Linked DNA regions of Homo sapiens: region 1 is linked to region 2. The links come from fine-mapping of genetic effects on gene expression. A gene starts in region 2. The other region holds a variant in brackets. All regions are shown on one strand. Distances are from middle to middle. Region 1 overlaps TM6SF1 (transmembrane 6 superfamily member 1). Region 2 holds the start of HDGFL3 (HDGF like 3).

Region 1 (4,000 bases), 73 kb after region 2:
CATATAGCTCACACATACAGTGCAGAGCAAGAATGTACATATTCTTAAGTACTCACGTATGAGAAGAGAGTGAAATGGGACAAAATATCAGTACCAGTATAACAAAAGTTAGTAATTTAGAAAGGAGGAACATGAAGTAATATTTTTATTCCACTTTTTCTTCTGCCTTTGTTTTTATGAAGAACTCTGGTTTGTAGATACAACGATAGGCCAAGAGCTGAGGAAGAACTCCATATGCTATGTTTAATGCTAAAAAAAGGATTTTTGCTTCTTCAGGGACTCTGTAGACATAAGCAGTTCTAGCATGAAGAGATGCACCAATGTGAGAAAACTGAGCCTGTTGCATTTAAAAAAAAAAAATTGAGTAAGCATGAAACGTGTTCAGTTGGATGCATGATGAGTTCTGAATGGTTCATTCAGGCTACGTTTCTGTGCCCTCAAAACCAGTCTCACCTGCAGGCAAAATACCTTCAAACAATCCAGAGTCTTTAATGTCAGAGTCTTTCATTAAATTTAGTCCTTGATTAAATTTAGGGCCATTCTTGATATGACTGTTCAAATAAAGTAGATATTATTTAGTGTAGTTTTATCATGCCAGTTGTGTTTTTTAACCATCAAGTGCCCCTTACCGAACATTAGTGGCTCAATCTAATAGAAAAATCTGAATAAAATCTCAAATTTTTTTCTGATTTGCGTTCTGGAGATCCTGCATACAGACTCAGTTGTGGTTCACAAATTGCGTTCCAATAAAAATGAAGAAAGCGCAGAGTTTTAAAAAACAAATATTTTTAGCATAAACTATTGAAAGGGAAGCACTGGGGGGACCTCAGCTTCATTTATCAGTCTTTCATCTACTCCTTGCAGCAAGAGCTCATACCCTTTCCCTATGTGTTTTTTGTTTATTCATTTATTCATGTATTTGTTTTTTCTGCAGCTTTTAAAATATTAAGGGTTGTTTGTAAGATAAGGTTGTTACCAACTTGGGTGGAGGTAGGAGTACGGTTGCTCTTTGTAAAATGGCAAATGTACATGCAGGCAACCTTTTTAAATCAAATTATAATTTATTTAGAAGTACGACATGTCAGCATTATCCGCATTTGCAAAATGGCCTCCCTCTCTACTTATATACTTATTCAGAAAACACATTCAGAATGTGCCAATTGGTCTTTTTTGATATTTTTCGCAAGCACAGAGGAAAACCGTATTGGAAAGGGTAAAACAGACCACAGCAGGATTAAAAGCTCCTGTCAGAAAATTTCCTCAGAAGGCTTGTATCATTACAAAATGTACCCCTGGAGTCTGCATTTTCATATCTTGCTGAAATTCAAGATACACATGAATAAAGGATTGGGAATCTAAATGTAATAAGTAGTAAATTATCAGTTCATCAGGATCAAAGAGACAAAAGACTGCACTATAGAGAAGGCATAGAAGTAACAAGAATGAAGAACTAGATAATTTGCTTTAAATACATATAAGTTATTTTACATTTCTTCCATATGAAACCAATTTATTCTGCTGAGTGATTTCACAGATAAAGGTGTTACTTACTTGACTTCACCATGACAAGAAAAGGACAAGTTTTTTTAAGCAGCATCTTTATGAATTTTTTATCAGTGGCAGATATTTTAATGGGCTGCATTTTTACAAATTCCTGATATATTCTGGAGACCTGTGGTACATTTTTGCTACTCTGGAGATATAAATTAAATTAGCATGATGTATTGCCAAGGACCAGCACGTGGATTGTCTACATTGTGATCCATGAGGCACTGAGAGGACTCGGCCCTCAGATACAACTCCCCTGGGTAGATGCCCAGGCAGAACCCAGCAAATGTATATGCATCTCTGGGCTCTGAGGACAAAATGCCTTGAGAGTAAAGGGCACTTTCAGGGCTGCCCTGAGGAGGTGCTTTCTGGACATTCTAGGAACTCTGAGCAGGAGCATGGCTCCCATACTGTTTTTCCTTAGGGCCTGTTTTGAATAATAGTGTTTTTCTGAATATATAACCAAGCATTTTCT[C/T]TGGACTGGAAGCCACATTTGATCCCTGGTTCTCAGAAATCTGGGTTTGGTGGTTCTGTCTTTATAGATACTTGTACACATCACAAAATCACCAAATTTGGGGAAATGCCAACCATACTTTGAGAGAATAAATATGAGCAGTTGTGCCTACTTGCATAGGGGAGCCTGTGTAAAAAGTCAGTGATTCCGTAGGCTCTTTTCCTGCACTAACCAGTGCAGTTAATACCTCACTTTCATGAACAGCAAACTCATGGCAACATTAAGTGAATCATGGCCGGGCGCAGTGGCTCACGCCTGTAATCCCAGTACTTTGGGAGGCCAAGGCGGGTGGATCACCTGAGGTCAGGAGTTCAAGACGAGCCTGGCCAACATAGTGAAACCCCATCTCTACTAAAAAATACAAAAAATTAGCCGGGCGTGGTGGCAGACGCCTGTAATCTCAGCTGCTCGGGAGGCTGAGGCAGGAGAATTGCTTGAACCCGGGGAGTGGAGGTTGCAGTGAGCCAAGATTGTGCCACTGCACTCCAGCCTGGGTGACAGAGTGAGACTCTGTCTTTAAAAAAAAAAAAAGATTCATGTCCTTAGATTAGATTGTAAGCCCACTGGGCAGGTACTGTGTCTAATGTTTTGTGTGGCACCTGTCACATTGTTAGAGCTCAATAAACGTTCAACAACAATGGACTTGTGACTGTCAAAATACAAAAAGGGTCTACAAAGCATTTCTCTAGTTTTGTATGTATTTTAGTAGGCCTCTTTATTCAGAATTATTAAACAAGGCACAAAAATTTTAACATTCATAATCAAAAGAGGCATTTGTATGTGAGAGAAGAACTCTAAGGCCAGTGGTGTGCAGCTCCCAGTACTGCTCATAGTCCTAATGGATGTACTTATGGTGGCCACACTTCCAGCTGAGTGAGCACCTGACCATAGCTTTCTCCTAAGGCATAGGATGTTAAGTGTTCAGGGTTCTGAAGTTCAGAAAAACAGTCTCACCTGAGGAGGTTTCTCTTCCCAAGCACATAGCTAATAAAGGGCTGCAGGTTTTCTCCTGGGTGATGTTCCCAGCAGCACAAGGCCTCTCATGGCAGGACCTGAAGAGCTCAGCCTGAGCCTGTGCTGGGGTCAGGTGGCTCAGTGAACTCAATGCTGCTGAATTAACAGGAGGCCCAGGATTACAGATATGAGTTGTTGATCCTAGAAATTTCTCCAGAATTTAGCAATGTGAGGTTGAGTCCCTAATAATTTTTCTTCCACTTCATTCTAAATCATTTTCACCTTACAGAAATAATTAAGAGATATACTCTGATTTTTTTTTAAGAATGGATGATTGGAATGGCAAATGAGACAATAAGGTGAACAAAGGTTAAATTTTAAGAGCTGTTTTCTTACATGTATAGAGACAATCTGTAAAGGATAACTAAAAAAGTTAATCGTGGTTCCACAAGGAGGAACTGAAAGAGTGTTATATGTCCATGTGAATGTTATAGGCAGAAAACTTAGGTGACCATTGGGATGATAGCCAGGGTCTTTTGCTAATACAGTATAAATAGCTAATCTAGAACTGTGTTATCTTTTCTTAGAGTTTTCTGAGCAACATAGTTCATTGGTTCAGAACACTGACTTTGGAACTAGACATCCAGAGTCAAATCACAGCTCCACCACAAACCAGCCGTATGGCCTCGGGTGAGGTGTGGAACCCACCTCATAGGTTGTTATGAGGGTTCAGTGAGGTGATGTTTGTGACATGCTTAGACAGTGTCAAGCACTTGGGGCTATTCTGTAGACACAAGTACAAAACTGAAATACCCATTCATGATCTGGTGCTCGACTGTAGAAAATCTGGGCCCTTTGTTTTTAGATTCTCTTGACCTTTTGACCTTTTTACTGTGAGTGTCTCCATGAAAGGATAAGTACATAAAAGATGTTAAATCAGTATAATTTAATACTAAATAAAGATGTTTAGCAATGAATCACACC
Region 2 (4,452 bases):
CCCAGACATTTCCTTCCTTCTGGAAAATCTTTTACTCCTTGGCTCCTATGACACTACGTTCTTCTTCTACCTGACCCTTAGATGTTGGTGTTACCTGGCTCCAAACTTGGGCACTGCTTTTCTCATTCTACAGTTTCCTGGGCATCCTCCGTTATGGTTTCAGTGACCACTTATATACTGATATCACTCAAAAGTCTACATTCTGTCTTGACCACTTTCTCTAAGCTGTGTATTTAGCTGCCCACTAACTAGCTCTCTGGATGGCCCATGGAAATCTCAACACATCCCAAACCACTCAAGATCTCATCTCTAAACCTGCCCATTCTTCATGGATTTCTGCACCTTGGTGAGTGTCAAAACTAATCATCCTGTTGCTCCAACCAGAAACCAGGGAATCAGTTTCTACTCTTCCTCCTTCCTACCCACCTACCACCCAAAGAATCGGCAAGCTCTGTCTCAGCCCTTGTCTTATCTCTCCTGGGGAGAGAATATCAATGCAGGTCCTGCCCCAAGCCTCTCACCCTCAAGTCTAGTCCCATGCTGGCCACCAAAGTAATGTCTAAACCTGAACTGTGATCGCATCCCTCCATTGTTTACTGCCCTCCCCTGGTTGGCTTCCAACTGACAACCTTTCCCCTCTCATTTCTCTCCTCTTCCCTATATCCACCCCGTGCCCACAGGGAGGCTGGACTGTAGGGGCAAGCAGGCAACAGCTAGGGCTTTGACAGCTAGTCAGAGGGATGTGAGTTTGACATATGAGGATACAGAAATCATTCTACAGCTTCATGAGCAATGCGTGACATCATGGCAGCTGCATACGGTAGGTTCTAGGAGAGAGAGATGTTAGCAGATCATCACAACTGAGGCAAAGAGGACCTAGACTCATCTTCCACAGTGAGAAAAGAGGAAAAAAACGAACCTGTAGGACAGGTGAGTACAGGTCAATACCAAAAAAAAAAAAAAAAAAGAAAAATCATGAGATGCAAGTAGTAAGGAAATGCATTAGTAAAGTAATGTAAAAGCACTGCTAACAAAGTAAACAATCCACAGGAAATCTAGAGACTTTAAAGCCCCATCATAGGAAGCCCAGCACCACAGAACAAGAGCAGGAGTTAAAACACACACACACCATTCTACAAGGCCAGAGAGGGGGGCGGATGGTGGGGAAAACTGTAGCTTCTGTAAAAGGGAGAGAGAACAGACACAAATGAGAACTGTCCGTGTGACAAGGTGAGGGCCACAGAAAGCAGCATTTAGGAGCTATGCCAGCTGACCCCTTAAAGGAGGTGGGTTACAGCATGATTAAAGAAGCAGCATTCGTTCATTGGACAGACTCCAAACGATTCCTTGAATTATTCTACTTACTCCTCACAAAAGAGAGTGTTAGGAAGATTCCTACTCTCAAAATGTCTTTGAAAGCAGCCAGCTAGGGAATTTAGAGTAAAATAGTGGTAAATGAACATGTTCTAGAGCTAATGAACTGTATATGTACATACATCTCCAGAAAGGGATGCTAATTTCAAAAACGTTGTCCAAAAGGTTGCCAGGATTGGAAACAAGTGACCGGCCAGTGCAAGTCCTTTTCACAAACACTGCAGGCCTAGAAAACGCACACAGAGAGAAACATAATCGCTTATGGACTTTGGACTCATGTGGATACAGGTTCGAATCCCGTCTGTGCCACTCAGCAAATGAGAAAACCTCCCATGACTCCGATTAAATAGCTCGCCCTAGGTGGGTCACACTGCATTGTTAAGGGCAGACCTGGGGCAAGAATCCAATAAGGTCGCTGACTCCGGAGCGGTGCTCTTTCCGGCAGCTTGGTGCCCAGCAGAGGGTCCCCTCGCGCCGCCGTCCCCCAGGCCTGGAGCGCCTTTGTCCCCCACTCACCAGAGAGCAGCCGCGGAAGTGGCTGGCTGGGGGTAGCCAGGAGAGGGTCGAGTCAGCGGGAGGTGGGCGTGGGAGCGGGGGGCGCGAGTGGGGAGAACCCCCAGAGTGGCACGGACGGGAGGGGAAGGGGGCGGCCGGGTGGTGATTGGCTGGGCTGCGGCAGGCAGCTCCGGGCCAAGAACAAAAGAGAGCAGGCGGCGGGCGTCCTCCGGAGTAGGCACTCCCGCCCGCCCGGCGCGGGCTTCGGTGCTGGGGGAGGACGCGCCCACCGCCCGCCCGCCAGCCGAGAAGCCGGGCTGGCGCGCTCGGTTTCTCCGCGAAAGCCGGCCGTGTACCTAGGAATTAACCGGCCCGCGCGGGAGGGAAGGGGAGGGGAGCGGGAAGCGGGAAGCGGGGCGGGGGGGGGATGCTGAGCGCGCGCGAGAACAATAATAAGATCGTGTTTGCGGTCGCTGCCCGAGAAGGAATTCGGAGCAGACGCGAGGCCCGGCGCTCGCGCCGCGCCCGGGAGCCCGGGAGGGAGACCGGCAGCGGCGGCATGAGGCAGGCGACGCGGCGCTGGTGAGCAGCGCGCGCGGCGGCGGCGGCGGCGGCGGCGGGGACCTTGGCGCGGCCGGACGCGGGCGAGCGCCGAACGGCCGGGGGCTCCCCTCCCCCGCTGCCGGGCCGTGATTTGCCGGGCCTGCTGCGCCCCCCGCCCACCCCTTGCCTCAGCCGCCGCCTCGCCGCTTCCCCTCGTCGGAGCGGCCGCTCGTCCGCCCGGCTTGAGGCCCGCGGGGAGCGCGGCGCAATTCGTCGGCCCGCGGGGGGGCGGCCTCCCGGCATCTTCGCGGCGACCAAGGACTACCAGGAAGGGGAGCGGCTGGGATGGCGCGTCCGCGGCCCCGCGAGTACAAAGCGGGCGACCTGGTCTTCGCCAAGATGAAGGGCTACCCGCACTGGCCGGCCCGGGTGAGTACCGCGGCCGCGCGCGGGCCCGCCCGCCCACCATTTTCCCCTTCATGATGGCGCGCCCGCCCCCTTTCCCCATCGCCTCAGCCCCGAGCCCGCAGCTCGCGGCCGGCTGTGGTGAGGGCTGAGGGCGGCGCGGCACGAAGAAGACCGGGCCGGGGCTGAGGCAAGGGCTCCCGGCCTCGCCCGCACTCCGCCAGGGCGGCCATCCTTCCGCCCACTTTCGAAGGCGGGTCCGGCCCCCGCAGGCCCGACGCTGCCTTCCTCCTGGAAAGCCGGTGCCGACCGGGAAGCCACGCCGCCGGGCAGCGGGCCTGCGACGGAGGCTTCGGCTCCGGGCAGGGTCATTGGTGGATACCCTGGGTCCCGGGCGAACGTCGGGGCAGGTACGGCAGCGGGGTGAGCGGCTGTCCGCGAGCCGGCGAGTGCCGGCGGGCAGTAAATCCTGGAAAGTGGTAGTGGTCATCCAGAGGCCAGCGGGAGCCTCTTGGCAGTCATTCATCCATCTCTTTGCCTTCTAGACTTGTTGAGTTTTCCCTGAGCGCGATTCCCGGTGCCCCGCCTGCCCTATCATTGTCCTGGGGTACGTGCCTCTCTGGTGCCCATCGTTCTTTTAAACCGACCTCTGATAGCCGAGAGCTTGCAGCCTACCTCTGACTGGTGGGTCCAGCAAGCTTCTTGTGCCTTTCCACCTCCATATTTGTTTTAGGTAGAATCTCAAACCTTATTCTTGGCCTCCTGCTACAGTCCACAATAGCTCTCTCTTCCTACATAACAAGGTTGTCGTTGGGCTCTTTTTCTAGAAAGCGTCTGCATGTAATACATAGCATTCACAATTTTTATTAAGCTCTTTGAGGAAGACACACAACACTGCCATGTGTGCTTTGTGTTTTAGAAGAAATCCTTTTTATTTTTATTTTTGTATGGTTGGCAGTTGATTGCTTGAAATAAGAAATCTTGTGAAAAGGAGGGTCAAGGCATTCTAGAGATTATATTGGTATTCTTTAGGAACGGAAACAGTCATGGAGAAAATTGGCATAAATATAGTGTGAGCTCTAAAATGTTGTATTGTAGTCAAGTGAAGATAGCAAGATCAAGAAAAAAAAATACACCCATTCACAAAAGGAAGTGACATCACGAGTGGCCAGACTGAAATTTAGTGAAGTTGAAGTAATGGATGGACATAATCACTTTTTAAATATTTGGTTTGGCATGATTGTCAAATGGAAAGAACACTAGGCCAGGAATTGGGGGACCTGGTGTCTGGTTCAGGCTCTGTTATGGACTAATCATTTCAACTGTCTGCATATCCATTGCTGCAACTATAAAATCATCTCTAGGATCCTTTCCAACACTAACAACCTCAGATATCAAGAGGAAAAAACAGTCTTATTCAGGTTCCAGTAGACTGAAAATAGCTTCGCATCTGAACTGTAGATTGTCCTTAAGATAAGGCAAAGTTTTTAAGGTAGAATAACTGGTTATTTTTTATGCTGTAATACAGTATTGCTTAGAGAGGCAAGATTTGTGACTTTAGGAGTCCCTGAATATATTTGTGACTTCAGAAAATCCCCGAATCTGTTTGCCAAGTAAGAAATGTATAGCTTTAGG

Evidence for each region. PIP is the estimated chance that this variant, and not a neighbour inherited with it, causes the effect. A credible set is the group of variants that fine-mapping cannot tell apart.
Region 1: its variant is the best candidate, but not a certain one, in a credible set for the expression of HDGFL3 in whole blood (TOPMed, PIP 0.79).

Annotation. Positions count from the first base shown.
Region 1 is chr15:83,132,818-83,136,817 of GRCh38, reverse strand. TM6SF1 (transmembrane 6 superfamily member 1) reads right to left here. Exons shown (of 10, transcript NM_023003.5): 10 at 1-337. The coding sequence ends at 146. HDGFL3 (HDGF like 3) reads left to right here. Exons shown (of 6, transcript NM_016073.4): 6 at 1-4,000. Among named protein-coding and RNA genes, the nearest start is that of TM6SF1, 27 kb to the right of the region's middle. The variant C/T (reference allele first, on the strand shown) is at 2,024.
Region 2 is chr15:83,205,720-83,210,171 of GRCh38, reverse strand. It overlaps HDGFL3 (HDGF like 3), which reads left to right and starts at 2,349. Exons shown (of 6, transcript NM_016073.4): 1 at 2,349-2,841. The coding sequence starts at 2,758. RefSeq lists an enhancer at 1,438-2,051 and silencers at 1,912-2,251, 2,642-3,091.